Linked DNA regions of Homo sapiens. The protein of the gene in region 1 purifies or fractionates together with the protein of each later gene. This does not show direct contact. Each region holds a gene or a part of one and is shown in the gene's direction. Other genes may lie near its edges. The genes, in order: AHI1, ALDH5A1, LAD1, COL18A1, BOP1, RRP1 and OFD1.

What was found.
Region 2: the proteins of AHI1 (region 1) and ALDH5A1 purify together in Homo sapiens (affinity purification with mass spectrometry; one large-scale study listed by BioGRID and IntAct). This does not show direct contact.
Region 3: the proteins of AHI1 (region 1) and LAD1 purify together in Homo sapiens (affinity purification with mass spectrometry; one large-scale study listed by BioGRID and IntAct). This does not show direct contact.
Region 4: the proteins of AHI1 (region 1) and COL18A1 purify together in Homo sapiens (co-immunoprecipitation; one study listed by IntAct). This does not show direct contact.
Region 5: the proteins of AHI1 (region 1) and BOP1 purify together in Homo sapiens (affinity purification with mass spectrometry, with the first as the bait; one large-scale study listed by BioGRID). This does not show direct contact.
Region 6: the proteins of AHI1 (region 1) and RRP1 purify together in Homo sapiens (affinity purification with mass spectrometry, with the first as the bait; one large-scale study listed by BioGRID). This does not show direct contact.
Region 7: the proteins of AHI1 (region 1) and OFD1 purify together in Homo sapiens (affinity purification with western blotting; one large-scale study listed by BioGRID and IntAct). This does not show direct contact.

What each region holds. Positions count from the first base shown.
Region 1 is NC_000006.12:135,487,274-135,491,682, reverse strand, and holds part of AHI1 (jouberin), read left to right. Parts: intron 1-935; coding exon 936-1,060; intron 1,061-4,409. UniProt on the Homo sapiens protein: Involved in vesicle trafficking and required for ciliogenesis, formation of primary non-motile cilium, and recruitment of RAB8A to the basal body of primary cilium.
Region 2 is NC_000006.12:24,534,787-24,538,065, forward strand, and holds the end of ALDH5A1 (succinate-semialdehyde dehydrogenase, mitochondrial isoform 2 precursor), read left to right. Parts: 3' UTR 1-2,421; downstream 2,422-3,279. UniProt on the Homo sapiens protein: Catalyzes one step in the degradation of the inhibitory neurotransmitter gamma-aminobutyric acid (GABA).
Region 3 is NC_000001.11:201,396,070-201,400,936, reverse strand, and holds the start of LAD1 (ladinin-1), read left to right. Parts: upstream 1-1,612; 5' UTR 1,613-1,630; coding exon 1,631-1,668; intron 1,669-4,867. UniProt on the Homo sapiens protein: Anchoring filament protein which is a component of the basement membrane zone.
Region 4 is NC_000021.9:45,411,172-45,415,580, forward strand, and holds part of COL18A1 (collagen alpha-1(XVIII) chain isoform 4 preproprotein), read left to right. Parts: intron 1-4,409. UniProt on the Homo sapiens protein: Probably plays a major role in determining the retinal structure as well as in the closure of the neural tube.
Region 5 is NC_000008.11:144,281,238-144,285,646, reverse strand, and holds part of BOP1 (ribosome biogenesis protein BOP1), read left to right. Parts: intron 1-4,409. UniProt on the Homo sapiens protein: Component of the PeBoW complex, which is required for maturation of 28S and 5.8S ribosomal RNAs and formation of the 60S ribosome.
Region 6 is NC_000021.9:43,795,635-43,800,043, forward strand, and holds part of RRP1 (ribosomal RNA processing protein 1 homolog A), read left to right. Parts: intron 1-1,787; coding exon 1,788-1,917; intron 1,918-1,996; coding exon 1,997-2,061; intron 2,062-2,272; coding exon 2,273-2,466; intron 2,467-3,935; coding exon 3,936-4,015; intron 4,016-4,409. UniProt on the Homo sapiens protein: Plays a critical role in the generation of 28S rRNA.
Region 7 is NC_000023.11:13,740,618-13,745,026, forward strand, and holds part of OFD1 (centriole and centriolar satellite protein OFD1), read left to right. Parts: intron 1-3,797; coding exon 3,798-3,902; intron 3,903-4,409. UniProt on the Homo sapiens protein: Component of the centrioles controlling mother and daughter centrioles length. Recruits to the centriole IFT88 and centriole distal appendage-specific proteins including CEP164. Involved in the biogenesis of the cilium, a centriole-associated function.

The sequences.
Region 1 (4,409 bases):
CATAATGACTATGTACACTATGTCAGACCTCATAATAGTAGCTGGGGATGTAGTTATGGGGGAAACAGAAAATATGTTTCTTTATATAGATATAAAAATAATTATATAATTTCCATTTGGGTTGAGTGCTGTGAAGGAAGAGAACAACCTGCTATGTGAGAAAAGGGAAAATTAGATGAGTTTGTCAGGAGGTGTTTTATTTACAGGCAGCATTTAAACAGACAGGTTAACACCAGCCAGGTGAGGAATTAGAGGAAGCTTGCCTCAGAAACAGCTTCATGTGGGAAGGAGCTTGCTGTGACGGAGGAGCTAAAGGAAGGGTATTATAGCTAGAACATAGGCATCTAAGGGGATATTTGTCTTGATTTGAAGCCCTGGAGATAGATCAGGAGGTATGGAGCCCTGTAGGGCATATAAAAGACTTATTTTATCCTAAATGTATTGGGAAATTTTCAGGGGCTTAAGCATTATCTTCTTCATGTTTTAAAGGAAAAACCTGTTAATATTTGTGGAATACTGATTACAGGCTAGGCACACCTTAGCCATTTTTCATGCAAAATGATCTTTGGCATAAGATAATTGTGATTTTACAGATAAGGAAAATGAAGTTTAGAGATCTTGAGTAACTTGTCTAAAGCCACATAACACGTAACTAACAGTGGTAGATGCTACTGTTTATCAGAAATAAAAAGTTAACTTAGCAAAGGAGACTTTTAGAGTGAGTGGCCAAAAAGGTCAGAGGGATACAGGTGAATGTTGTGTCACTAAAGTCAAAATAAAAAATATTTTAAGAAGGAAAGATAGGTGAGTTTTTCTAATGTAGCTAGAGAACTCATGCCGATATTTACAAGAACTTATTTCTTAACATCCTAGTAGTGTAGGTTGTGTGTTATGATAGAGTCATTTACAAAATCACATGGCTGTATCTTTTGTAGCTGAGAGTGAAGCAAAAGTAAAAACCAAAGTTCGCTTTGAAGAATTGCTTAAGACCCACAGTGATCTAATGCGTGAAAAGAAAAAACTGAAGAAAAAACTTGTCAGGTCTGAAGAAAACATCTCAGTAAGTAAATGATCATTGGGTAATAGTGATTTACATATGCGCATAAAATGCAGATATGGCTGCATTTTATGTTAAAATTCTAAGGAATTTTGAAAATTAAAAACAGTAACACTATGTCATGGTCAATAACATGTGGTAAAAATAAAGTTTATATTAGAATCAACATCACTGTGAGAATATTGACTTCATTCTTGAGTGCTGTCCTACAGGAAGAACACACACACAGTGGGGAAAATGACCAGAGATAGTGGGGAAACTCAAAACTAGCCATGATAACATTTTTGAAGAAAATATTTTTAACCCAGAATTGTGAAGAACTTAGGAAGTAGTATCTTAACTTCAGATATTGAATAGCTTGTGCTTATTTAAACTATTTCTGTGTGATTCTACCCAACAGAACCAGGAGAAATCAATGGCCGTATGGTAATAATTATCCTTTTATGTTTGAGGCACACTTTCAAATGATAGAATCTTTGGCAGCACACTTGAAGGAATTAAAAATACAGTGCTCAAAGACTAAGCAAATCAGCAACTAACTACAACCTGATCCCCTTGGAATCATAAAGAGTCTGTATTGGCATCCACAGTTAATGCTCTATGCCCTCTTTATACCTATCTCCCTACTTGAGTTGCACTTTTTACTACTTTGACCATTATCTCTTCTGTCCTCACAGAAAAAAATAAACAGGCTCTTGTGTAAATGGTACATAGTTTTTTTTTTTTTTTTGGCAGGAGTTTTATAATGAGTTATAATCCTACATTTTGCTTGTAGTAAGATTTACCCCATTTTTTCTTAAGACCTGTTCATTTTAGTATTCTGTCTGGCAGATGTCAATGTAACAATATAAATTCTGAAGTGAGGCAAAAACAAGTAGTAAAATTGACCAAAATCCAGCTGCACATATGTGAGGGTTCATAGTGTATACACTGGTGTACGACTGCACAAAAATTTCGAACTACTGACAGAATGGACAGATTAGCACTCCCATAGTGATTGCTGCTCTGAAATAGCATGTGCTTTTTCTGGTGGTACTAGTGCACAATATGGTAGGGAATAGTGACATGGAGGATGAAACATTGCTTATTGATATATGCGCTCCCCTCAGATGGAGTGGTTTATGTTGGGCAAAAGCAAAAAGAACCCTGGAAACAGTTGTCTGCAGAGATGTTTTATGCTCAGAGAAGAACCTCATATTGTCTCTTAGTATTAAAGAACTGGGAGTTGTGAGCCATGAACAAAATGCAATTTAGACCAAGGTTTAAATTAAATGGATAATCAGAATAGGCAGAGGCTATGTCCATTTACCTAAGGTCCAGTTTAAATGTTGAGGGGCACATAAGTGTGAGGTGACTAAGCATAATTTATCCAGCCTCTCTTTGCAAACACCAGGACTGAATAGGCTTCTTTTCTTTCAGAAATAAGTACACTAGGAACAAATATTTGGGAAGATATTTCGCAGCTCAAAAGAACAGGAATATTTCTAAAGGACTTAGAGGAGAACAAAATATTTTTGACATGATTAACTTGAGGAAGTAAAAGAGGAATAGCTGCTTTCATTTGCTAGATGCCTTAATGCTTTCTATCTTTAGGCACTCTTCTAAACACTTTATATATATTTAGTCGTTTAATACAAACGACGAAATTACAGGGTTTTATTTCTGTACAGGAGAAAACTACATCAGAAGTTAAGTAACTTGCTGAAAGTTACATAGTAAATGGTAGAACCAGGATTCAAACACTGAGTGGAAGTGCAGAATCCACTGCCTTAACCACAACCCAATATTATCTATTTTAATGAAATTTGAAAAGATAGGACTTCTTCTTGAAAGAAGAACAGGGAGTCCTATGTACAGAACAGGCTGAGATGAGAAATGGAGCAGTCTGAAATAAAATTAAGCGAGGAAAAAAGTCAAAATAGGGATTCATAATAATGGCAGGTTCATCTTATATTCCAGTTATATATAAGGCACAATAATAAGAGTTTTACAAATATTATTTCTAAATCTCATGTTAATCATGCAAGATAGATATTGGGATTCTTTTTTTGCACATGAGAAATTTTATAAACAGACAAACAGACATGTTAGGTGATTTCCTTAGGTCATTTAGTCTAAAATAGGATAAGTGGGATTTAAGACCACAGTCTCTGCAATTTTAAAGTTCATGTTCTTCAGTTGCTTCCTTAAAACTATATCTCAGGCCTAAAATGATGGAATTGACACTACGGAAAAATCTAATCAGTGAAGTGGGAGACAAATTCGAGGTGGGAAGAAATGACCAAAACTAAAATGAAAGAAATAAATGATGAGGACATAGAAAGATATTTGACCCACAAATAAGTATCCCGGGACAGTACTAGTGGAGCAGAAACAATAATGAGCATGATGAAGAAACCTTGCTGAGATTTCTGAAGAGATGAGTCATCCTGCATTCCAGGCAAAATTTATGAGATGAGAACTATATCTAGAAAATTCTTTTGTTTGTATCTTAAGAGTCAAATATTGCAGACACCTAAACACAAAAACATATAGTACATTTGAGACTTCTCTGTAAAAACACTAAATCCAAAAGACAATGGAGAAATATTTAGAGCACTAAGAGAAAAATTGTAGCCTGAGGAATCTGGTCACCTAAGTTGTCAGTCATTTGTGATGGTAGTTGTAAACATATGTGCATTATTAGAGAAATATCAGTGTTCCCTCCCTGGAAAAAAAAAAAGATTTAAGATTTATTAAAGATGTAGTACCATTTCTAGATATGAATCAAAGTTAAGAATTTAAGAATAGAACATCTTAAGATCTTAGAGGAAGGGATGAAGAGAAGTTGGTTAAGGAGTACAAAAATATAGTTAGAAGGAATAAGTTCTAGTAGTCAGTATTACAGTAGGGAAATTACAGTTAATAATTTATTGTATATTTCAAAATAGCCAGAAGAGAAGATTTATGTTCCCAACATAAAAGATAAATGCTTGGAGTAATGGGTATCTCAGATGCTCTGATTTGATTATTATACACTGTATATGGTGTCAGAATATCACATGTACCCCCAAAATATGTACAACTATTATGTATCAGTTAAAAATTTTTTTGATGGGAAATTTATGATCCAAAAATACCATTGGATGAACTTTGAAATCAGTTAAATATGTAGAACTTTCTTAATTATTATATATGTCCAGAATAATTCCTGAAGATTTTACATTAGATATATGTATATGATAATGTGAGAGAACAGAACCAAATTGTTTTCAAAGATTGAGCAAAGCATCCTAGCTTAGGAAGAAAAAGTCACGTAACCATTACTCTTGTCCCTAGCGTATAGTTAAAAGTTATTATTTCATCCTAGAGT
Region 2 (3,279 bases), about 110 Mb from region 1:
CCTGTTCTTTCTGTCCTGGTGTGGTGCTGCTCCCTCACCTCCAAAAGAGCAAAAGTACTTTCACCACAGTCAACCCAAAAGGGAAAGAATTTCTGTAATTGCCAACCCACTTTGTAGAAGAGGCATGAGCCCTTGAATTTCAGGCACCTTTTATCTAATGAGAGTTTTTACAGCTCATCATTCAAATAACGCACAAAAAACAAAAGCCGCTATGACCGGCGTTGCCTCTCACTTTGAAAGAAAGACTCCGTAATCTTAAACAGATGCAAATCCAATTAGGCGGCCAAGTAGGTGGAGACGAAGCACCTTCCTTTCCCCATCTCTGTCTGTGTAGACTCCACTTACATCTTGTGGTTATTCTGGGTTGTGGAAGGAAAATGTGAATGAAAGTAGTGCTGGATGCAATTACTCCTGAACCCCACCTAGGATTTAACATCCCTCATTGAGCCACTGGGAAGCTATGGTTGAGTAACTAAAGGTCTGGCAAGACCCTGGGCACACAGGGAGCTGCCTAGCATCTGGCCTGGAGTGTACTAGCCACATTCCCAAGGTCCCAAGGAGAAGGAAGAGCTGAAATTCATCTCCTAGTGACAGTGCCCCGGCCCTGTCAAGAATCACATACTCAGCATTTTGACAGTTAATGTCTTCTCTTTATTTGTGTAGTTTTTAGGTGGTTTTATATAACATTTTAATTACTTGTGATTTAGATGTATCCATCCTTTTTCTATTAAGAATACAAATGCTGGGCTGGGCACAGTGGCTCACGCCTGTAATCCCAACACCTTGGGAGGCCAAGGCAGGCAGATCACGACATCAGGAGATCGAGACCATCCTGGCTAACACGGTGAAACCCCGTCTCTACTAAAAATACAAAAAAAATTAGTCGGATGTGGTGGCAGGTGCCTGTAGTCCCAGCTACTCTGGAGGCTGAGGCAGGAGAATGGCGTGAACCCAGGAGGCGGAGCTTGCAGTGAGCAGAGATCACGCCACTGCACTCCAGCCTGGATGACAGAGCGAGACTCCGCCTCAAAAAAAGAATACAAATGCTCCAACATTATTTTTTATAACTCTGGATTACCGATGCTGAGATGTGTGCAGGAATACTTCCAAATAAATTTTTAACATTGTAAGCCAGTAGATTCTTTGGCTGGGTGGCAAATTTTGAGTCTTCTTGCATATTTGGCTCATGGGTTCATAAATTGAGGCCAGAGACTCATTGTATATCCTTGATCAATTTTCTAATTAAAGGAAATAGCTTATTGTTTAGTAAAATGGCCCTTGGTTGTGGGAAGAAAGAGAATTATTTTTAACTGAACGTTTTTGTTGTTTTTTAAATAAAGTAGCCATATGTAACGGGATTTTAAAAATATATACATTTTACAACATGGACTAGAAAAGGACCATTAGATCAGGGGTTGGCAAACTATGGCCCACGAATCAAACCTGGCCTGCCACCTGTTTTTATACAACCTGTGAGCTAAGAATGGTTTATATGTTTTCAAATGATTGGGCAGAAAATCAAAAGAAGAACAATATTTCATGACACCTGAAAATTCTATGAAATTCAGATTTCAGTGTCCATAAACAAAATGTTATTAGAGCATAGCCACACCCATTCATTTATGGTATTGTCTGGGACTGCTTTCTTGGCAGAGTTGAATAGTTGGGACAGGGACAGTATAGCCTGCAAAGCCTAAAAGATTTACTACTTGTCTCCTTAAAGAAAAAGTTTGCCAGCTCCTGATCTAGACCAAGAGGGAGATATTGACCTTACTTGCATTTATCCGGCATTATTTCAACACCTCCTGTGAAGAAAGTACTTTTCTGGCATAGCTACCGTGAGTTCTCAGCAGGAACTTCCCAGCGATGATAATGTACATGAAATTAGCCACGTAACAAGAGTCTATTTGCCTTGAAAAAACAATTATCCTTGAACTTCCTCCAGCTATGCAGGGATTCTCATTAAAGAGCTGATCTGCATCTGTTTATCCATTTTAGTAGCTTTTAAATATGATTTTATGTGAAGTGCCATTTCTTTATTCTACTAAAGAGAGACAGCAGAAATAAAGATCAGAAGCAAATGTGAGCAAATCTGTTTTACTGTTAACTTCAATTATGAACTTGAAATTGTGCCACATGACTTTTTCCTCTAAAAACTGGATCCTAGTGTTTTAATTACCTGTGTGCAGCTATTTTAAATAGCATTTTACTTGAATAATATGTATGTTGTCATTGTTTCATGCTATACTTTGTGGGATAAAACTTGGGAATGAGTGTGGTAAGAAATTTATAAAGTTTTGCTTTTAAAACGTGGACATAACTCATTTTTCTAGTTTTTGACAATTGTGTGTTTTAGTGTCTAGTCTGCAGAGAGCTGTGTGATTAATAAACGTGGAATTAACAGAATTTCCTCTCCCTGTATTAAGGTGTCTGGTTGTGCTTTTTTCCCCCTACTTGGTGATCTTTTGAGTTTTTATTGGATGATATTAGACCAGTTTGCATTTGTGTAAATAGCACTCCCTCCCCCAGAGAGCCGTAATCAGTGAGTGCCTTGGGGAAGGAGCCAGCATGTGAAATGATGTGCCCTAAAACCCAGAGAAGGGCCTGTCCATGGTGTGCGCTTATAGAATGTTTGCTAAGCTGAACTGAGAATTTACCTGGTTTGCAGAGGTGGCGGTCACAGAAAGGTGTATAGGCCAGCCGTCACAGATTGGCCTATCTCTCTCTCCTACACGCCCCACTGTTATGACTTCCTGGGCTCAAACAAGCCTCTCACCTCTGCCTCCTGAGTAGCTGGGACCACAGGCACCTGCTACCACACTCAGTTAATTTTTCTTTCATTTTTTGAACAGTCAGGGTCTCACTGTGTTGCCCAGACTGGTCTCAAACTCCTGGGTTCAAGCCACCCTCCCGCCTCAGCCTCCCAAAGTGCTGGGATTATGGGAGTGCACCATTGTAGCCAGCCCTCACCATAATTTAGAACACAGACAGCACTGCTGCCCAGTGGTTAGTGGACATTTTTGCAAATGTCGTCTCACATTTTACAATCACGTATTGCTCGACAACAGAGATATATTCTGAGAAATGCGTCATTAGGCAGTTTCGTCCTTGTACGAACACTGTAGAGTACTTACACAAACCTGGATGGTACAGCCTCCTACACAGCTAGGCTATACGGTCTAGCCTATTGCTCCTAGGGCTACAAACCTGCACAGCATGCTACTGTACTAAATACTGTAGGCAGTTGTAAGACAATGGCAAGTATTTATGTATATAAAC
Region 3 (4,867 bases), on another chromosome or scaffold:
GGGGTCCCCTCTTTCTCTTTTCCTGTAAGCAGCATACAGCTCCAGGGCCTGCCTTGGCCTCTGTTCAGAACTCCCTGGAGCCTTGTCGATATTCATCTGTGCACTCCAATGTCACTAGCAGGGAACTCATATGATTTCCACAACCTGGAAGGAAGCAGAGCAAGGTATCGTAACATCCACTCCACAGATAAGGAAACTGAAGGAGTTTGTCCCAAGTCACACAGTTCACAAATGTCAGAATCAGAGCTCAAGTGTGCAAGTTACCAGTCCAGTTCTCATGTCCTGGACCTCGTCCCACCCTTGCCAAGAAGGAAGGCTCCCTGGAGGAGGGGGTACTTCGGGAGGGGGAATCTCAACAGGCTGGCTGTGTCTGTGTTTCCAGGCTTCTGCCCGGCAGCTAGCTTGCCCTTTGCCGTGAGATCTCAGAGCTGGAAGGCCTGACATGAGCACCAAAGAGAGGCTGAGGCTGGGCAGCGAGGCCCAGGAGCATGAGGGCAGTTCTGGCTCTGGCTCAGGCTCCCTTTTGATATTCTCATCCTGGCGCTGGGGCTGTGCCTCCTTCCTCTCAGGGCAGGAACAGCAACTGTGCGCTGACCCTGCAGTTCAGATCCATCAGGGAAGATAAGATTCCCCATGCTCAACGCCTGACCCTCTCTTAGCCCAAGCCCACCTGAGGCTGGTTCCTGGATAGAAAGCACCTGGCCCCGCACCAGCCCAGATGGGCACCTAAAGGGAGCCAGGTGGTGTCAGGGGTGCCTGAGCTGTCTCACGGTGCTCCAAAATTCGAGTCCTAGATATCTGTGTTTAATCTTTCCTTGGGGAAGAAAAACTGAGCTTCCTCTGCCCTTATTATACACCCTGCCACTCTAGCCCAAAGTCCAGTATCAGGGAGCAAGGACAGTGCCTTTGACATATTTGTGCTTTCACAAATGTTTGCTGAATTGAGTCTAAGATTCTCCCTTTGGGTGGGGCTGGGTCTACCAGGGGCATGTTTTGTGTGCAGCTCAGAAAGCAATGCCTCATTCATCTCAGCGAGGCCTACTGGGACGGTGGGCCCGGGTGGGTTCCGAAGCCAGGGAGTGGGGAGGGCGCTCCCTGCGAAGGGGCCCCGAAGGCGCGGGCGCTCTAGACCCGAGATCACAGTACCTGCGCTAACTTTTCCGCTCGGCTTCTTGCTCTTGAGCGTCTCCGGGCTAAGTCGGGTTCCCGGCAGGGGTCCCCGCCCCCAGCCCAGCTCCTCGGCACCCCGGGCCGCGGCACAGCGCGGGGAGGCGTCCCAGCGCCAAGCTGGTCGGACTGGTTCTGAGCAGGAAGTCTCCCGCCCTCGCCCCGGGCAGCCGACCAGCCCCACGCCGGCCCCGGGCGTCCGTCGTTCGGTCCCGCGATCCGTCCGACGGTCCACCCAGTGCTTGCGGCCTCGCGGCCGGGCCGGCCTGGGCTGCAATCAATGCGGCTTTGTCTGGGACGCCCACATCCCAGAGGCCATTCCCGGGTCGGCAAATCGGAGCGCGGCCGGGGCGCGCGGGGGTGAGATAAGCGGCCATGTGATCCCACCTGGGCTGGAAGGGGAGGGGCGCCAGGTGAGGCGGCGGCCGGCGGGGCGCGGGCGGCCACGCGGGGCTCCTGCAGCATGGCTGTCAGCAGGAAGGACTGGTCCGCGCTGTCCAGGTGAGCGCCGGAGGGAGCCGGGAGGGGCGGGGGGTCGGCGGGGAGCCTTTGGGTCTCCTCTCCTCGGGGCACCGGCCTCCTCCCCGCCTGGGACCCTGACACTGAGGCTGGATCCTGGTCTTGCTGCGACTCGCGGGAGACAGGATTGGGGCCAAACTCGGGACCCCTGAGGTTACAGGGTGGGTCTTCTCCCCTCGGGGCCTGAGGCCCCACACAGGGTGCTTAGGGGAAGGCTGGTCCTCAGTCTGGACGCCCGCTGGGATATGGCCCCCCCTGTGGAAGGTGGAAGCAGGAAGGAACGTTTTGGGGGATTGTGGAGGTGTTCAGGAGTAACCTCCAAGCCTCATTCCTGAGAGAAGCCTCTCTCACTGCCCCCGTGTGTCTCTGGCGGAGAGGACCCCTGGGAGGTGTCCCACAGCCCCTCTTGGGAGGGGGAGCAGGGAGAGCCGTCTTGGAGGGGTCAGTGAAGAGGACTGGAGGGAAGCAGACCCGTCTCCCACTAAGGACGCTCAGAATCTCAGCATGGCATTTTGGGGTGGCATCTGGGCTGGGAACCTTAAGATAGTTGCCATCCCCATCTGTGCTGCTGCAATCTTTACTTGTACACTGGTCTCCTAAAGGGTCGGGGATGAGGCATCCTACCCCTGCCTGCTGGACATCCCATCAGGGTCCGAGAGGCCTGGGGAAGGCGGGTGTTCAGAAGGCAGCACCCCTCATGGAGATTGGTGACCTCTAGCGACTTCTCTTGGAGCGACCCTGCACCTCTGCCAAGAAGGCCCCCTGTGAGCATTTTCACCTCATTCCTCCACTGGGCGCCCCCGTCCCCCATCTTGTCCCTAAGGAAACTGAGGCTCCTGCGGTAGCCCAGAGCTGGAGCCTGCTCTTTTGATCCCTTTCTAGCCAGGTAGATATTAGCCTCTTAGCTCCTCCCAGGTGGGCATTTGGGTCTTGGCCTTTCCTGAGCCAGGGCTATCTCTGCCAGGTGCAGACCCTCCAGCCATTTGGGTCCTGTAGGCTTTCCCCAGCAAGGCATCTTTCACAGGTTTTTCCAGTGCTCTAGTATGTCCTCTACCCCGCTCCTGCCCTCCCTTAATAAGGGCTCCAGAACTACCTCATTGTCTCAGGCTTAGCCTCTCCATAGCAGCTCATCGCCTGGGACTGGGGGGCCACCTCCCCAGACCCTCAAGACCTCACAGTGCTCTGAAGCACTGTGGGCAGCCCATGGGCTCTAGAGAGGGGAAAAGGTAAGCCCCACGAATGGAGGGAACTCAGTGCTCTGGAAAAGAAACCCAGGCTGCTATAGAGGAAGGTCTATGCTGAGGGTGCGGCTGAGGAGTCAAGGTCTTGGACTTTGCATGTGGGTCAGTGTGCCTGGGGGTTGATGTGGGAGTGTCTTTGCTTCTAGATGTGGGCCTACCTGTGCCTATGAATGTATGCTTATGTGTGTGTGTGTGTGTGGCATACTTGTGGACAAGTGTGTTTATGGCCTATGAAGAGATGACACATCTGTGTGGGGAGCTGGTTCTTATGTTGCTGAGTCTTGAGTTTGTCAGTCTGCATATGTTCAGTTGAACTGTTTATTGAAGACCTCAGTACTGTGCATTGGGTTAAAAATACAAACCAGACACTCCTTCTTCAGAAGTTCATAGTCTGGTGGGATATATGTGATTTTGTGTCTGAAAGCATGCCTGGATATGCATGGGGGGGTGTGTGTGTGTGGGGAGGCAGCTGGGGCACTGGAACTTTGAAAATGGGAGCAAGGTCTGGCCTAAGCTTGTCCACTGCTCAGATGGACATGGACTCATGTGGCTACAGCCAAGTTCCCACAAGATGTCCAGGGTAAGTGCCAGGAAGCTCTGGGGAACAGTCCTGCCACAGGGGCCCCTGGCCTGCCCTCCCTGCCGGGTCCCAGCCCTCATAGAGCCCTGTGGGCAGACGCAGCTGCTGCCAACAGTCACCCTGATGAGGCACCTGGAACAGAGGACCGCTCCCGCTCCGCTCCCTGGGTGAACAAGCCTCAGCGGGCAGGCAGGAAAGGGCTGTGAGTCACTGTCAACAGAGCCTCCTGGGCTGGGGAGGACCGTGCTAGGGTGTGACAGCACGGTCCCAGGTGGGGAGGTGGATGGAGAGGTGGGTGGGTAGCTGGGGGCCAGCCTGCAGCCCATCCTTGGCATGGAGCAGAGATTCAAGTCTTCCAACCCTGGGATTGGGGGGGCAGTGGTGAGCTGGCTGGCTGGGTGCCCTGGTCAGAGGCCTTGTCCTTTTCTCCCCGGACTGGCCTGGTGACCAGTGAGGCTGGGCCAGGCCTGTCTGCAGGGGGTGAGGGGTGGATCTGAGAGTGCCTGGGACTGAACAGCCAGTGGTTAATCATTTCCCTGCCTGGGCCTTGAGCCGCCCTCCTACTTCCAATCGCTGCCCTGGGTTCTCCAGACACCTCTCCCTAGACCTTTGGGGCTGGAAGAGACCTGAGTTACCCCCCACAGTGACCATGCAGAAGGGGAACTTAAGGCCTGCCCTGCTCAGGTGCAGGAGACTGGCCAAGGTCATGGGCATGATCCCCCAACCCTCCTCTGTCCTCCCTTCCCTAACCCCAGTCCCCAAGATTTGCAAATTATGCTCCTTGAGCCCCAGGGTTCCACAAAATGCATCTGGGGCAGCCTTCTCACCCTCTCCCAGCTTTAAGCAGGGCAGCTGAGCCTTAATCTGTTGTATAATGGGCTTCTGTCTATGATTCAATTTGGGAAAATGGCTTGTACTGCTAAATATGACTTTTAACAACCACTTCACTTAAATCCCTGCCATCAGTTGCTGCAGAATAGATGGAAGTTAGACTTCAGGAAGAAAGTTCCCAGGGTAGAGGTCAAAACAAGCTCTCTAGTGAGTAACGGCAGAATGTCCTTTAGAATTATTTAAGAGAAAAAGAGGATCCCCATCCCCAAAGGATGGAGTTGAAGTCTGGAGTGGGGAGGAGGATAGCAGCATTACATGGAGACACCGAGAGGGACATGTGTCCCCAGATGAAGGCCAGGAGGTGGGGGAAAGGGTTGTCTAGAGGGAAGGAGTGGTAGGCAGCTGCCTGGGGCTGTGGCCTCAGCTAGTAGGAGCAGCTGAGCCTCCGCAGCTGTTCGGGCCTGTAGGTTTCACCCTGGGCCTGGCTCTGGGGCTTGAAGGTCAATGTTGCATGGGCCACGGGGTTTCC
Region 4 (4,409 bases), on another chromosome or scaffold:
GCTGCCAGTGCAGGGTGTTATCCAGGGGCAGGACATCGTCTGCAGTGGCTCTGCCTTCCCCGATGCCAGGTGACCCCATGGAGCCAGTGTCTGTGACCTCTTCCATGCTGGGGCTAAAGAGGCCAGCAGGATTGGGGGCTGGCATTAGTGGAGAACCTCAGAGCCCAGGGCTGTGGGCTGATGGGTGGCGAGGCCCCCGCCAGCTGCTTGGGGATAGCCCAGCCACTGTTCTTGGTCCACCCGGCCTTTGATTCCTTTTTCCTGTGTGCATTTTTGAGCACCTTCTGTGTGCGAGAGGCCGTGCCTGCCCGAGAAGAGAAGGAAACACCACAATGAGCCTCGGACACCCACAGTCTGAAGGGCCCGGAGTAAGCCTCAGACGCCCACAGTCTGGAGGGCCCGGCGCTGTGAACGAGCAGTCACAGGGAACAGCGTGCCCTTATCGCTGACACAGGCTCTGGAGGGCCCGGCGCTGTGAGTGAGCAGTCATAGGGAACAGTGCACCCTTATCGCTGACACAGGCGAGGGCTTCGTCTTCTCACAGCTCTTATCTTGGGTGTCACCCCAGCCAGAGTCAGGGCTGATGGCGGGGGGTGGGGGGGGGGCAGGCTGTGGTCAGGGACCTGCAGGAGAGGGGAGGGCCTCGCTTCTGATGGGCGACGTTCATTTACACACAGCTCTGCGGCCCAAACGGCCAGGCTGGATCCTGTCTTTTAAAAACCTTGCTAATTTGGTTGATGGAAAATATCATCTCAGAGTTCTGTTTTGTGAGTCCCCATTGCCATGCGGGCAAACATTTTCATCCACTAAGGGGCCGTCGTGTTTCTCTGGGAACGTGGCGTTCACCGTGTGGGTGAACTTTTTCACGCACTAAGGGGCCGTCGTGCTTCTCTGGGAATGCCGGGTTTGTGGCTCGTGCCCACTGCCCTGCAGGTGCATTCTCTTTCCCCGTAGCTTTTTGTCTGTTGATGCTTTCAGCTCTGGATGTCCTATTTTGCGTACTTTTATTGTTTATGGTCAGCCTTTAACTGGGGGTATGATATTTCTTTAACTGGGGGTATATTTCTTTTTTTTTTTTTTTTCGAGATGGAGTCTGGCTCTGTTGCCCAGGCTGGAGTGCAGTGGCGTGATCTTGGCGCCCTGCAACCTCCATCTTCCGGGCTCAAGCGATTCTCCTGCCTCAGCCTCCTGAGTAGCTGGGACTACAGGTGTGGGCCACCACGCCTGGCTAATTTTTTTTTTTTTTTTAAAGTAGAGACGGGGTTTTGCCATGTTGGCCAGGCTGGTCTCAAACTCCTGACCTCAGGTGGTCCACCTGCCTCGGCCTCCCAAAGTGCTGGGATTCCAGGCGTGTGCCACTGTGCCCAGCCATGGGGTATATTTCTTAATGTGTGGAGTTGTTTTTCCTCATTTTTCTGGTCCCTTTAGAGATGGCACCCTGGAGTGGCCAGCAGAGCTCAGGGGCCTGCGGCCCAGGCACACAGACAATGGAGCTGGCCCTGCCACTTTGCTCATCTGTGGTGCAGGTCTGCTGAGGGGCCGTGAGGGTCCTGCAAGTGAAGGTGCTTGAGGCCTCAGTGCCTGTGGGGAGGCCACGTGGCACCTGTCAGCTGTTAGCGTCTTGACTCTGCCTTTGTGGATATGGAATTAGAGATGCTTCTCACAGTAGTGGCTAAACTGTCAGGAAGCCTGGCCGTCATCTATGGTCCTCTTTGCCCTCATGGGTGGGATGCCGCCTAGTGTGATGGCTGAGAGCTCAGGCTGTGACCCTGAGTGTGTGTGGCCACGGGCAGGCTGCTCACCCTCTCCGTGTCTTGGTCTCTAATCTGTGCCTGGGGATGGTGGAGCGTCATGGGGCCATACAGGAAGGATGGGACATCACACATCGGCTTCCTGGGGTGTGTCCTGCTGACAGCCCTCTGAGGCCAGCCGGTCCTGAGGCTCTAGGGGGGACGCCACAGTGGAGAGAGGGCTCCATCCCCACCCTTAGGGCAGAGCCCCGTAGGAGGGACTGGTTTGCAACGTGAGTAAAATGGGTCCCCGTGAGCAGACACAGCTTTTGTGCTGCTTCTTACTGAGCCCCGCGCTGTGCCTGCTGAACTGAAAGATGTGTATTAGAGAGGGCAGCCATTCCCACCTCCTCCAGCCGCGCTACGTGTCCGCAGGCCAGGGCGCCTGCACCATGACAGGCTTCAACGCCCCTGTCGCGGGGACCCAGGGAACACCTGTCTCCTCCACTTGCTGGATTTGTGACTGGGCGGCAAACATTTTCTAAAGTCTCCCGCTACGACCCCTCGGCTGTCAGGAGACTTCTGAGAAAGCCGGGCCTCTTTTGCCCCAGCGAGGAGCTTTCTTGTGAAGAGGCAGTTCCCGGAGGGAGGCGTCTGTGCTTTGTAAAGTTTAGCCTCATGTGCTGCCTCTGAGGAGGAGTTCAGAGAACATCCGCTTCCTTTCTGTTATCATCTCAGCCTTCCAGCCAGAAAGAAGGAAGCGTCCATGGATCCCGTCCACGCTAACCTTGGGGTCCCTCTGCCAGCCCTGCACATCCTTGTCCCTGGGCACTGAGGGAAGCAAAGGCCCCGCCAGCCATGCCCAGCACTTGTGCCTGGGCCTTTGCAGAGGCTAGAGGCAGGGTAGAGGATGGAGAGGGTTTAAAAGGCAGGTTCCCAGGAAATTCCCTAGGTGTGGGATTGGAGGGGTGCTGAGGGAGGTGGCGGACCCTCAGGGGCAGGAGCCTTATGGAGTGAGCTGGTCCATGGAGCTGGGAGGCGTCTTCTAGTATAAATTCTCATTTCAGCTAAACAGCTTGCCCTCTCCAAGCCCGTGTGCACCTGAACCATCTCTGCTCTCTGAGCCTTGGTCCCTTGGAGGAGCAGGAGGAGGTGGAGGAGGAGGATCGGGAGGAGGAGGGGGAGGCCCTTTCTGTATTGGATGCACCGCCTGGCCCCAGGCCCTCCTGCCCAGCCTTGTGGCTCTGGCCGTCAATCAGCTCCCTTCTCCTGGCTTTGCTGCTGCCCTGCCTCTTGCTAGGAGGCCATGGTGTGCCTGTGCCTGGCAGGCAGTGTTGCTGCTGACCTCTCATCTGTTTTGGGTCCCCAAATCTCAGCCCTGTCTCCCTTTCGGGGGCACATCTTGATGCGGGGTCTCTGATCCCCTCGGGGCAGCAGGACATCCCTGTTTTCCAGCTGAAATGAGACTTCACCCCCAAAGGAATGGGCTCCAGTCCGACCTACTCAGGTTGTTAGTCACACGTTTCTATTGTGAAAATGACTGAGAATGTTGTGGGAGGTTTGGAAACCAGGAAGACCACCTGTCCCAATTCAGCCTTTCCTGTCATCACAGGGGACGTCTGGCATTTTAACAGACCTGGGCGGCCTCCTGCAGACAAGGCTCGGACCCTGCGGCCGACTCTGCCCCAGGCCTGGCCCCTGCTGATGGCCATGCTCCGGGCATGTGGCCTGAGGGCCTCACGGACAGCCAGCCTCCCAGACCAGAAAACAGCCCTGCCCGCCAGTGAGAGGGCAGACAGATGGACACTAATGTCCCCGAACCTAAGAAACAAAACCCAAAACCCTCATTTATGCTTCCACTTCCGATCACACGCATAGAAGGCCGAATACTGACCCCGAGCTGACCACCCCGGCCTGTGGGACCCGTGAGTATGGCCTGTGTGTGGGATGAGGCTCAGGATCAGGTGCAGATGACCCTGGATTATCAGGTGGGCCCCACGTCATTACGAGGGTCCTTATAGAGAAGGGGCAGGACAGGGAGAGGAGGGGATGATGGAGATGGAGCCGCTGGGGAGGGCATGAGAAGACCAGGAAGTGGGTTCCCCCTGGAGCCTCCAGAGGACCCCTGCGGGCACCGTGACTTCTGACTTCCAGTCTCCTGAGCTCTGAGGGATGCCTGTGTTGCTTTAAGACACTGACTGACTTGTCCCAGCAGCCAGAGGTGACAGTGCGGCGTGGTGTTGGTTCACCGAAGGGGTGGCATTAGTGACCATGGGAATAAGGGCCTCTCACCTGCGAAGGGCCACTCTGTGGGGCAGGAAGTCTTGGATGTGTGCCGGCTTCAGCAGGACCCTCAAGGCTGCTGGGGGTCAGAATACGAGCACTTCCTGCACACCCAGGGCCACCCCAGGCTGCAGGCTTTGTGGAGACTTAAAGATGAGTCCTCGGCCTTCGGAATCTCCTGACTCAATGGAACCTCTGGTCTTCAGGTCCCCAGGATGACCTCCCAACAGGCCCAGGGCAGCAGCCAGGAGCTGGACACCCAGGGCTCAGAGCTCAGGACCGGCTGCCACGGGTGGGGCAGGAGGAGGGGCAGGACCATGCGCAGGGGCGGCGGAGCGGGGCTGTGAATGGAGCCCCCCTTCCGGAAGATGGATGCAGGTGGGAACCAGCGTGGTG
Region 5 (4,409 bases), on another chromosome or scaffold:
GCAGCTTCTCCTGCTGCTAAGTGTCCTTGCCCTGCAGTGGGCGCACCTGGGATTCTGTGGTCCTGGCCACGGCCACTCGTGTGGTCTTGCAGATGGTTCATGGGCCTCGGTGGGTTACTTGGTAAGTGAGGGTAATGTCTGCCTGGCAGCCCCTGAAGGACGAGATGATGTTTTTGCTAATTTCTCTTCTGCCACGTGCTTCTGCCTGTCCCCCCACTCCCTCCTGTCGCTGTTTCCTCCACAGTGGTTGGCAAGACGTGGCCCCTGTGGCCTCTGCCTCGTGCATCTGAAGGACATCCCAGCCACAGCATCACATCAGACTGGAACAGTGGCGGGATGGGGCTGGGCATCAGGCAGCATGCATGTGTCATGTCACGGACACCTCAGGGACACACGAAGTCAGGCAGGGCGAGGGCCTCACTCCCCAGGCCGCCTAGCCCTTGGTGGGTATACCCGGCCCCGATGGTGCTGTGAAGAAGGGGCTGTGTGACTGGCATGGGAGGGAGCTGCGGCTTTTGTTCATCTCTGCCATCCTGGCAGCGATGTGGCTGATGGGTCACCTTCAGAGAGCCTCCTCCATAAATCTGATTCCAAGTGTGTGCCCCAAACCAACCCAGACCGGCCCGGGGCGTCCTGCGGAGAGCCCCACAGTGGGAGGCCCTTGTAGCGGGGAGCCCGGTGACTGCTGGGGGTCAGCTGCTGGCGGCCCCTGTGGAGACCTGGCGACCTGCCAAGGGCTCCGGACCTGCCTGGGTGGACCCAGGGTGGGCGTGCTTCTGGCTGCAGGGCCGGGCCACAGGCTTCCCTCTGGCTTTCTGCCCTCAGGCCTTTAGCATTGACATGCACACGACCCTGCCTCCTTTCTAAGGACTGTGTAGAATTACGTGGCATTCAGTGAGCAGCTGCACGTGGTGTTCTAGGGCACCTTTGGATGCTCAGGTGCTCCTGAGGGGTGTGCCAGGGAACGAGTCTCCTACCCTTCCCTCCTGGCTCCTGTTGCTGCATCCAGGCAACTACTGTTTCCAGTGCTGAAGTCTCTTTCCAGGATGTTCTAGACATATCCAAACTCGCACAGAGTTTTTGAATGGTGGTTTCTTAAGAGAAGGGGCAGCCGTGCGCTGTCTCAGGATGGTTCTGTCAGGGAGGCCATGGCTCTGGTTTGTACAGTGCTTGGTGCCCGTAGAGTGCCTGGCAGCTCGGCCTCAACAGCTCCAGTGGGTGGGCAGTTGCAGGCTTTTGCTCTTACAGTTGACCTGACAGTAACATGCTGTTTCTCACATGTGCACACCATTCTTGGGGAAAATTCCAAGAGAATTTCTAGGTCAAAGGATAAATGCTTTTTTTTGTTTGAGACAGGGTCTCACTCTGTCACTCAGGCTGGAGGGCAGTGGTGCGATGTTGGCTCACCAAAATCTCAACTTCCTGGGCTCAAGGGATCCTCCTACCTCAGCCTCCCTGGTAGCTGGGACTACAGGGTCCCCGCCACCATGCCTGGCTAGTTTTGTTTTGTTTTGTTTTGTTTTGTTTTTTGAGACAGAGTCTCGCTCTGTCGCCCAGGCTGGAGTACGGTGGTGCAATCTCGGCTCACTGCAACCTCCACCTCCTGGGTTCAAGTGATTCTCCCGCCTCAGCCTCCTGAGTAGCCGGGATTACAGGCGCCCGTCATCACGCCCGGCTAATGTCTGTATTTTTAGGAGAGACGGGTTTCACCATGTTGGCTGAGCTGGTCTCGAACTCCTGACCTCAGGTAATCCACCTGTCTTGGCCTCCTGAAGTGCTGGGATGACAGGCGTGAGCCGCCGCACCTGGCCATCAATGCATTTAATTGTGAAGGTGCTTGGAGCGTCCCTCCGCTAGGCGGTGATGCCATGCACTACTGCAGCCGCCCCTCAGCTGCTTTCCCACCACCAGCCTCCCTCATGGTGTTGCTGCTTCATCTTTTCCTCTTGTTTAGTGATGTTTTTCTTTCATTAAGAATGAGGCTCGCACAGCTGGGCTTAACTGAAAAAATAAAAATAAAAAGAATGAGTCACAGGCTGGGCCCAGTGGCTCACACCTGTAATCCCAGCACTTTGGGAGGCCAAGGCAGGTGGATCTCTTGAGCCCAGGAGTTCAAGACCAGCCTGTGCCATATAATGAGACCCCATTTTTACAGAAAATTTAAAAAATGAGCCAGGCATGGCGGTGCGTGCCCGTGGTCCCAGTCCCGGAAGCCCTTCTGTCTCTTCCCTGTGGCGGCATCATCCATGCACTTAGCTGGCTGGAAACCCTCATGGCTGTTGCCCAAGGGCAGGACAGCTAGCTGGTTCTTGTCATTTTGGTCTGAGCTCCCTGGGCCAGGAGCCCTTTGCTGTTTTCTCTCTGTTTGTTTGTTTTGTTATCTGGCACCACAACAAACTGCCCCAAACCATGGAGCCTTTCTTTTTTTTTTTTTTTTTTTTTTTTGAGATGGAGTTTTTTTGCTCTTATCGCCCAGGCTGGAGTGCAGTGGCACAATCTCGGCTCACTGCAACTTCTGCCTCCTGGGTTCAAGCGATTCTCGTGCCTCAACCTCCTGAGTAGCTGGGATTACAGATGCCAGCCACCACGCTCGGGTAATTTTTTTTTTTTTTGTATTTTTAGTAGAGAGGGAGTGTCACCATGTTGGCCAGGCTGGTCTTGAACTCCTGACCTCAGGTAATCCACCTGCCTTGGCCTCCCAAAGTGCTGGGATTACAGGCGTGAGCCACCGCACCTGGCCACCATAGTGCCTTTCAACAACGAGCATTTGCTGTCTGTGTTTCTGGGGTCAGGAGTCCTGGTGTTTTGTGAGGTGCACTCAAGGAGCAGGGTCTGGCTGTGCCCTTTGCAGCTCCTCCCCTGACTGTTGGCATGAGGAGCTCAGGAGTGAAGGTGAAGAAGGGTACTCTGTGTCTGGGGGGTGGTCAGAGGATAGGGATGAGGACAGGGACAGGGCCCAAGAAGATGGGGTGGGTGCTGTACCTCCCCCTTCCTTCCCTGGGGTATCTGTGGGCCACGGCAGGGCCCACAGCTGTTGCTAGTAGCCTCCTTGGGGCCAGTGGGTTTGATTTATTTTTGTGTTTGTGTGGTTTGAGGGCAGGCATCCCTTCCCCACCCTTTGCGTCCCTGCTACAGTGACCCCTCTTTCTGGGTCCACCTGCTCTGGCACGAGCTTGGTGGGCCAGCCTCACCCCAGGGCCCACCCCATCTCCAGCCTCCCTGCCTTGGGCCTGGCAGTCCTGCCTCTTAATTGCGTTCTGTGCCACCTGATGACCCACGAGTTCTGTCTCCTGGCCTGGTTCCTACTCCCTGGGACTTTCTGCAGCCCCTGCCCTTCCAGCTGTTGACTGTGTCTGCGAGCCATCCCACTGGAGGGGCGCCCTGGGCTGTGTGCTCCCTGCCCTGCAGCACCCCTGACACGGGTGCTCCCAGCCCTCCACTGACCAGCCAGGGAGGAAGCTGCCTCCTGCCGGCCTGTGCCTCGCTTCCTGTCCCCTCTCCAGCAGCACACGGCAGCGCGGGCCGCGGGCTCACCGGAGCGAGGACTGGTTGCAGGGCCTTCTCTTTATCGCTGGTGTCTAGTGGATCTGTGGGGTCCGTGCGCTCAGAGCTGTTTTTTCCTTTCTGTGCTCATTTAGATTCATTTTTTTCCCAGCTTTGCTTGGTTTTGTCTTTTCATTTATGTGAGTTTTTCTTTTTATTATTTTGTGCAGAAGTTTCTGTTTTTATCAGTTAATCTGCTTGTCACAGTCAAGAATGTGAGAAAAGACTGGATGCGGTGAGCCAAACCTGTAATCCCAGCACTTTGGGAGGCCAAGGTGGGCGGATCACTTGAGGAGTTCGAGACCAGCCCGGCCAACATGGTGAAACCTCATGTGAATTGCTTGAGCCTGGGAGGCGGAAGTTAGAGTAAGCTGAGATCATGCCACTGCCTCCATCCTGGGTGACAGAGTGAGTGGGACTCTGTCTTGAAAGAAAAAAGCACTAGTAAGAGAAGGCCTAAGACCTAGTATTAAAGTAAGAGAAGGCCTAAGACCTGGTATTAAAGTGAGAGAAGGCCAAAGACCTGGTATGAAAGTGAGGGAAGGCCGAAGACCTGGTATTAAACTGAGGGAAGGCCGAAGACCTGGTATTAAACTGAGGGAAGGCCAAAGACCTGGTATGAAAGTGAGAGAAGGCCGAAGACCTGGTATTAAACTGAGAGAAGGCCAAAGACCTGGTATGAAAGTGAGAGAAGGCCGAAGACCTGGTATTAAACTGAGGGAAGGCCGAAGACCTGGTATTAAACTGAGGGAAGGCCGAAGACCTGGTATTAAACTGAGAGAAGGCCAAAGACCTGGTATGAAAGTGAGGGAAGGCCGAAGACCTGGTATTAAACTGAGGGAAGGCCGAAGACCTGGTATTAAACT
Region 6 (4,409 bases), on another chromosome or scaffold:
ACCTCCCGGGCTCAAGTGATCCTCCTGCCTCAGCCGCCCAACTGGCTGGGACTGCAGATGTGCACCACCAGGCCCACGTAATTTTTGTATCTTTTTTTGGTAGAGACGAGTTCTGTCCTGTTGCCCAGGCTTGTCTCAAACTCTTGGGCTCAAACAATCTGCCTGCCTAGGCCTCCCAAGTTGTAAGCAATGTTAATTGCTCCTAATTCTAAAAATATGTAAATTGGCTGGGCGCGGTGGCTCACATCTGTAATCCCAGCACTTTGGGAGGCCGAGGCGGGCAGATCACAAGGTCAAGAGATCGAGACCATCCTGGCCACCATGGTGAAACCGTGTCTCTACTAAAAGTACAAAAATTAGATAAATGCATAGAAAAGAATTAGCAGGCTGGTTATGGTGGGTTAAGGGGATCTCTTGAGCCCAGGAGTTTGAGGCTGCAGTGATCTGTGACTGAGCCACTGCACTCTAGCCTAGGTGATAGAGTGAGATTCTGGTTTTTTGTTTTTTTTTTTTAAAGAATCAGCAGGAATTGAACTGTGGCTGCTGAGTTTCTCTAGGTTTGAGTTGCATGGGTGATTTTGCATTTAGGGCAGCGGTGCCTCTGGTTTGGAGGGATTTTCATTCTTCTATTCCCTGGCAGGACTCTGATGCCAGGAGTCTCATTCATTCTGGGCCTTAGCATTGTGGATTACCCCATAGGGGTCTCATGGCTTAAGCTGAATTAAATGTTAAAGGGATGATTTTACTTGTGTTAACTTTTTTTGGCATATTATTACAAGAGTACTTTTCTCCCTGTAACTGAGAATTCAGCACAGGAATCATGTGGAAGACCTCGGTGCCTTCCCCCAATGCCTGCTGCGGTCCCAGTGCTGACAGTGGGGTCCGCTCTTCCCGCCCTCTTGGATCTCCTGCAGGCATAACCAGGCTGTCATTAATATCCACGCCATTGCCACTGGCCTGGGAAGTCGGTCCCTTGCATCTGTGTGTCTTCCTCTTGGTCTCAGCACCTGTTCTTGCCTCTGTCTCGTTTTTCCTGAGCCTTAGAGAGCATCACTTTTCCTTTCCATCACGAGTGATTCTCCAGCCTTGCTACGGAGCTTCCTAAGGATCACACAGTTTACAGATCTGAGTTAGGCAGCTGCGTTATTAAGCACCCCAGGAGGTCCAGATGCATGTAGGTGCTACACATTATTCTCTGGGGCTGTCTAGTCTTCAGATCCAGGGCCTGTGATGCCATCAAACCCGCCTGCCAGGGAGAGCTCTGGTGGACGTCACAGTTGGAATGCGTCGTGCGGCAGGGCCCAGGAAGCCAGCAGGTGGCTCATGGTCCTCGGCCCCTTTCTGGGCCTCCACCTTCCTTTCTCTGCCTGTGCTGTCCTGACGTGTCTTCCCCAGCGGTACCCAGTGGAGGCAGTGGAGAGGAACACCAGGCAGGGCGTCTCGTCTCAGCCAAGCCTTTCTCTCTGCTAGCAATCTTGAGGACAGAGGGAAGGCCTGTCTGAATGTTTACACGTGCTGCATTTTGTAGCTGACATGCACACTCAGGCCATACGTTCTGGTGGTGGTGCTGGTCACATAACTCCCTAACTGCAAGACTGCCTTGCGCTGGAGGAGACCTAGGATCGTTGATATCATCTGCGTGGACTTTAAGGCTGGCATGTTTGCAGACAGTGGCGCCTGCCCGCACTTAGGTTCCCATCAGAGCGTGTAACCATGGGAGAGTGGGGGGCACGGCTGTCTTGGGGCTCATCGAGGCTGCCTGTCATGTTTGCTTTTTCTTTCCTCAGACAGATCGAGGAGCTGCTAGAGCTGCTGATGACTGAGATCCTGCACCCCAGCAGCCAGGCCCCCAACGGTGTGAAGAGCCACTTCATCGAGATCTTCCTGGAGGAGCTGACCAAAGTGGGCGCCGAGGAGGTGAGGCTGGGCTCCGACGGGGCGGTGGAGCTGGGCGTTTGTGGAGGAGGAACTGAGCTCCCGCTGGCTTTCCCCGTAGCTTACGGCAGACCAGAACCTGAAGTTCATCGACCCCTTCTGCAGAATTGCTGCCCGGACCAAGGAGTAAGTGGTGGGTGGCCTGATCGGGCCCGACTCCTTCACTGAGTTCTTCCATGGGGCTGCTGTTGTGGGGGTGCTGCTCCCTCGAGGGATGAATCTGTCTCAGAGTGGCCGCTGGCCGTGTGGGTGGGGAGAGGTTGCAGGGGAGTCGGCGGCTTCCGCTTGGGAATCCAGCATAACGGGCCTGCTCACCGGCCTCTGCTCTGCCCCTCAGTTCCTTGGTTTTGAACAACATCACTCGAGGCATCTTTGAGACGATTGTGGAGCAGGCCCCGCTTGCCATTGAAGACCTCCTGAATGAACTGGACACACAGGATGAGGAGGTGGCGTCGGACAGTGATGAGTCCTCTGAGGGTGGTGAGCGTGGAGACGCGCTGTCCCAGAAGAGGTCTGAGAAGCCGCCCGCAGGTGGGGGTCACACTGCGCCTGGCTTCTCCTCGGGGCCTGTCCTGGGCTGAGCCAGTGCGATCTCCTGCTGGGTTGCTCCTGCCACCTCCTACCTGGTCCCCTTGTCTCTGCCCCTCTCCACAGTCCATCCTCAGCATAGAAGCCAGAGTGACTTCTGTGGGCACCAAGCACACGTCGTTTCCCCTCATCCCCCAGCCTCTGATGTGCTCCACGCCCTCTCCGGACCCCTGGGCTCCTCGGTCTAACGCATGCCTCTGGCTCAGTTGGCCCCCTAGACTCGTTCCTGCCTTGGTGCCGAGTCTCTCCGTCCCTCCCACCGTCTCTCCCCCCATCACTCTCTGGGGCTGGACTCTTTCAGCCTCCTGGCCTCTCCCAGCCCCCAACGCAGTCCTCCCCATAGCGTCACTCTGTGGCACGGGATGTGAATCACTTGCTCCTCGTGTTCCTCGTTCCTGGCCCGTCTCCCCAGAGGACAGCAAGCTCTGTCCATATTGACCATGACTGGGTTCAGGCCTGAGACCTCAGGGCACCTGACTGCTCTGTGTGCAGTGTGTGTGAGGGGCAGGTGTACTCACCTGCCCCTCACTGCCTGCCAGAGGCCTCTGTGGGCAGCCGTGGGGTCCAGCCTGGCCCATTTTTTGTTTTGATGCTGCACTCATTGTCCGAGCCTGCTGGGTGGTCTGAGCTCTAAGTGTGGCATCCTGGTGCTGTGGAGGGCATGTCTTTGACCACGCTCAGGACCCCAGTATGCCCCAAATCAGTGCTGTGGCCACTGTTCCCCTTGGCTTCCTAATCAGAAGACCCCCTCCCCACCGCCCCCAGCACTTGGCCCGGCCACCCTGTATGCTTCTCCCTGGTCTCTGCCTTGCCCTTCTCTCTCAGTAGCTGAGGTGCCTGGCAGGTCCGCTAGTGCCTGCTGCTGGCCCCCTGCTGCCAGCTACAGAGCAGACCCTTGTCACATGCTGCCCCACAGCTGCCTGTTGCCCAAAAACCTTTCTTCTGCAGACAGTGCCATCAAAGCCCCAAATGCCCAGCCTAGCTCGAGCACCCAGCCGAAACATCAGCTCCCACAGCTTCTGGACCAGGCCACCCTGAGGCTCCTCACTTCCAGAACTTTTGACATGGCCTTTGTTGCCCAAGATGCCAGCTTGTAGTCAGCCACTCAGGGCTGTGTAGGCACCTGTGCCCTGGGACATCTTTTTTTCCTTTGCAGGCCTGAGGTGGCACCTCTCATCCTGTCCATACGAGATTAGAGGTCACATGGCACCTAGTATCTGCCTTGAGCTGTGGGCTTTCCCGCCTGTGCCCATGTTCTGACCAGGGTGCAGGGTGGGCTGTCCGTTCCCGGGTGTTTCCCGCCTGTGCCCGTGCTCCGACCAGGGTGCACGGAGCGGGCTCTCCATTCCTGGATGTTTGGGGCCAGCACACGTTGGGCACAGGTAGGGTTCACGGGGTCCCTTTTGTTCCAGGCTCCATCTGCAGGGCTGAACCTGAGGCTGGTGAGGAGCAGGCAGGTGACGACAGGGACAGTGGCGGCCCCGTTCTCCAGGTGGGTTCCCTGGGCTCATGGCTGTGCCCTCAGCCTTTGCCCCTCTGTGCTACCGCTTGCTCTGGAAGAGGAGGGGGGCGTTAGGAGGGAGGATGGCAGCTGTTGGCATGGAGAGTTACCCGGACAGGGGTTAGCTTTGAAGGAGGGATGGGTGCCCCAACCCTGCCCGCCTGTAGACGAGTGGGATCATTGAGAGTGGGGCTGGGGCCTGGGAAAGTGGGGCTGGGGCCTGGGAGGGTGGGCTCAGGCAGAACTGCATTATCCAGGGCTGGCCTCACCTCACGCTGTCCTCTTGCCTCACACATGGGCAGCCCCCCAGATTTCCTGCGGCCCCCTCGTTGGGGTGCTGGTGGGGAATGAGATGGCATGTGCCAAGCGGCTGGCCTGTGGGTCC
Region 7 (4,409 bases), on another chromosome or scaffold:
CCCCATCTCTACTAAAAATACAAAAATTAGCCAGGCGTGGTGGTGAGTGCCTGTAATCCCAGCTACTTGGGAGGCTGAGGCAGGAGAATCGCTTGAACCAGAGAGGCGAAGGTTGCGGTGAGCCAAGATAGCGCCACTGCACTCCAGCCTGGGTGACAGAGCTGGACTCCATCTCAAAAAAAAAAAAAAAATCTATGTAGTTACTATAGATACATTATCCTTAAAAGTAGTTTTTCCATGGCCGGGCGCAGTGGCTCACGCCTGTAATCCCAGCACTTTGGGAGGCTGAGGCGGGCGGATCACGAGGTCGGGAGAGCAAGACCATCCTGGCCAACATGGTGAAACCCCGTCTCTACTAAAATACAAAAAAAAGTTAGCCAGGCCTGGTGGCGTGCACCTGTAGTCCCAGCTATTTGGGAGGCTGAGGCAGGGGAATCGCTTGAACCCAGGAGGCAGAGGTTACAGTGAGCCAAGATCACGCCACTGCGCTCCAGCCTAGCGACAGAGCAAGACTCCGTCTCAAAAAAAAAAAAATAGTTTTTACACAGTCTCTTTAAATGCATCTGGTTCAGAAAGACATCTGGCCGACAGCCCTTACCAGCTTCACCTAGCATCCCAGTAAAATTTCTGGAAGCCAGAAAAACTATGAGTAGCAGATAGGTCAGGCATCCTAGTGCCAAAATTTGGATAGAACTCTTAGCTAACAAAATAGCTCCTGGTAAGATAAAATTTTTTTAAAAATTGGTGTCTTCTAATTAAGTAACAGAAAACATGTAGGAAGATATTGTGTACTTAACCGTTGTCTGTCCCCTGACTCAGACCTATGGTCTTATCCTACCATATCTATGCTCAGGGGGTGCTAAGCTGTTGAATGGCCTTGGTACTTTTCCTCCTAGATTCTAGTCACCCATTCTTCCCACTGCTAATTTTCCTTTCAGAGATAATGATATCTGTTATGCGTGTCTGTGTGAAGAGACCACCAAACAGGCTTTGTGTGAGGAACAAGGCTGTTTATTCACTTGGGTGCAAGTGGGTTGAGTCCGAAAAGAGAGTCAGTGAAGGGAGATAGGAGAGGGGCAGCTTTATAGGGCTTGAGTAGGCAGTGGAAAGTTACAGTTAAAGGTGGTTATTTATTGTTAGCAGGGGAGGGGGTCCCAAGGTGCATGGTGGAGAGATCTTGGGACTCATTGTCCAGAAGAAGAATGTCACAAGGTCGATTGATCAGTTGGGGCAGGGCAGAACAAGTCATAATGGTGGAATGTCGTAAGGTTGGTCAGTCAGTTAAGGCAGGAGCTGTTTCACTTCTGTGGTTTTTTAGCTGGCTCCTGCAGGCCATCTGGACGTATATATGCAGGTTACGGGGGTTACAATGGCTGAGCTTCGGCTCAGAGGCCTGACAATATCCAGAAAATGATGTGCACAAAATTTGGATGAGGGAAGAAAATTTGGACATCGGCCCTTTGCTTTTTGGAAGTAAAAATTCTTATCTGCAATTGGCAAAAGAATAAGACATATACATCAATGGGGACAGAATTAGGAAGTCCAGAAATACATCCACACAAATATAGTCAATTGATTTTTTTTTTAACAAAGGTGCAAAGGCAATTCAATAGAGGAAAGATAGTCTTTTCAACAAGTGGTGCTGTAACAGTTGGATATTCATATGCGCAAAAATGAACCTAGACACAGATCTTATTTATTATACCTTACACAAAAACTAACTCAAAATGAACCATAGACCTAAATGTAAAATGCAAAACTATAAAACTTCCAGATGAGAACAGTAGAAAGTCTGTGATCTTGGGTTTCGTGATGAGATGTAACACCAAGAGCAAGATACATGAAAGAAAAAAGTAGATCAGTTAGACTTTATTAAAATTAAAAACATCTCTGTGAAAGACACTGTTCTTTTTGTTTTGTTTTTGAGACGGAGTTTCACTCTGCCACCCAGGCTGGAGTGCAGTGGCGTGACCTCGGCTCACTGCAGCCTCTGCCTCCTGGGTTCAAGTGATTCTCCTGTCTCAGCCTCCTGAGTAGCTGGAACTACAGGCGCCTGCCACCACGCCTGGCTAATTTTTTTGTGTTTTCAATAGAGATGGGGTTCACCATGTTGATCAGGCTGGTCTCGATCCCCTGACCTCAGGTGATCGCCTGCCTCAGCCTCCCAGAGTGCTGGGATGACAAGCGTGAGCCACTGTACCCTGCCAAAAGACGCTGTTAAGAGAATGAAAGACCCAGTGTCGAAACCCATAGAGCTTTACGTCATCAAGAGTGAACCTTAATGTTTGCAAATTTAGGTCAGGTGATCCCAGGATGGTATGCAGACTGTGACAAAATCTAATCCCCTTCCTGAAGGGAGTGGGGGTGGGGGAAAAGGTGCTGAGCTAACTACTGTTTTTAGTTCCAAGAAACTAAACATTTCTTAAGTAATTTATGCTTGTGGTTTAAAACAGTTTCAAACTATTCAGAAGGATATAAAGTGAAAGCAAAGTAGCAGTTTCTGCCCATGTTCTCTAATCTCACGCTCCACTGATAACTAGAATTAACAGTTTCACTCCACTGATAACTAGAATTAACAGTTTCTTGTTTATCTTCTAGAATTGTTTGAGGTTAAAACTATGTATTTGTAATTAAAACACAATCAATTGGGATTATATCGTAGATACTGTATGCAATTTGCTTTTTTTAATCCACCAATGTATCTTTCTGTAGCAGTATAGACTAATTATTTTTAAATAATGTATTTAACCCCCTATTGATGGAGATCTGGTTGTTTTATTGTTTGCTTTTTGCCATTACAGGTAACCTATGTGCAGTGTGCACCCTTTGTGCCCTTGTGAAAGTATACCTGTGTAAATTCATAGAAGTGGAATGACTAGATTAAAGGGCACATGCATTTCGAATATATATAAGCACTGACAAATTTCTCTTCCAAGTGAATGAGTATAGCTATATATCCACTCCCTTGCCAACACTTAGCATTATACAAGTTTTAATCTTAGCAGTGTTATAGGGAAAATAATGGTTTCTCTGTTGTATTAATTTGCATTTATGATTTTGTTCATGTTTATTCAGCATCTAAAAATTGTGTTCATCTTTGACAATGTAGTTTTTTCTGCAAACTACCCATGTTTTTCCCCATTTTTCTGATTTTTTTTTTTTAAACTGATTTGTAAGAGTTCTTTGATGTTATGAAAATGTCATCACTTTAGTCTTGGTTATGCCTCCATATTATTGCAACTATTTTTCCCAGTGTGTTATTTTTTTATTTTATGCCATATGTAAGTTTTCAGTTTTTATGTAGTTAGATTGATAAATATTTCTCCTTATTCCTTCCAGGTTCTGTATCATGCTTGGGAAGGCCTTTTCTCAGATTTATTAAAAGATATGACTGGGCACAGTGGCTCATGCTTGTGATCCCAGCACTTTGGGAGGCCCAGGCAGGAGGATTGCTTGAGGCCATGAGTTTGAGACTAGCCTGGGCAACATAGCAAGACCCTGTTTATACAAAAAGTAAAATTAGCTGGGCGTGGTGGGTGGTGGTGTGCACCTCTAGTCCCAGCTACTTGGGAGACTGATGTAGGAGGATTGCTTGAGCCCAGGAGGTCGAGGCCGCAGTGAGCCATGATTACACCACTGCACTCCAGCCTGGGTGACAGAGCAAGACTTTTGTCTCTAAAAAAAAGGAAAGATATATAATGTAAAAAATGATAATGTCCTAAAACTAAGATTGTAAAAACAGTGACTGAGCAGTGGTTGAAAGTTCTGAAACAAAACTGTATGCATATGTTTTTTAGGTTTTCTTATGCATTTTTTAAAAGAATTGGCAGAATATCATCAAGCTAAAGAGAGTTGTAATATGGAAACTCAGACAAGTTCGACATTTAACAGAGATTCTCTGGGTAATTATAGCCTTCTTTCTTAATTTCAGTTCTGCTGTTTTCATTTTGAATGAAGGAAATTATCTGATTTACCATATTGTGTGATTGCTCCTTGAACTGGAGGGATGCAGCCGGCAGGCAACAAGGGAATTCATTTCTGGAATCATCTTGGGGGACCAGGAAGTGCTCTCCAGTGTCATTCCCTAGCCTCATGAATGCCAGGGCTACACTGGCCAAATCATGCAGGGATTCAAAGGCCCATATTCTTCCTTGTTTGTTGAGTTTGACTTCTCTTAACTGGGAGGTTCTTCCTCGTGTCTTGTCTAACTTTACAGCCACCCAGTTAGAAGATTATAAACTACTTGCTTTGCAAAGTACTAGAGAAGTCAGTGACTTATCACTTCATTTTATAGTTGAGGAAACCGAGGTCCTCAGAGGAAGAGCAACTTGGAAACACTCAGTCTGCATCAGAACTAATAGTGGAGTCCAAGTTCTCCCATCCATGATCTGGAGCTTTTTGTACTATCC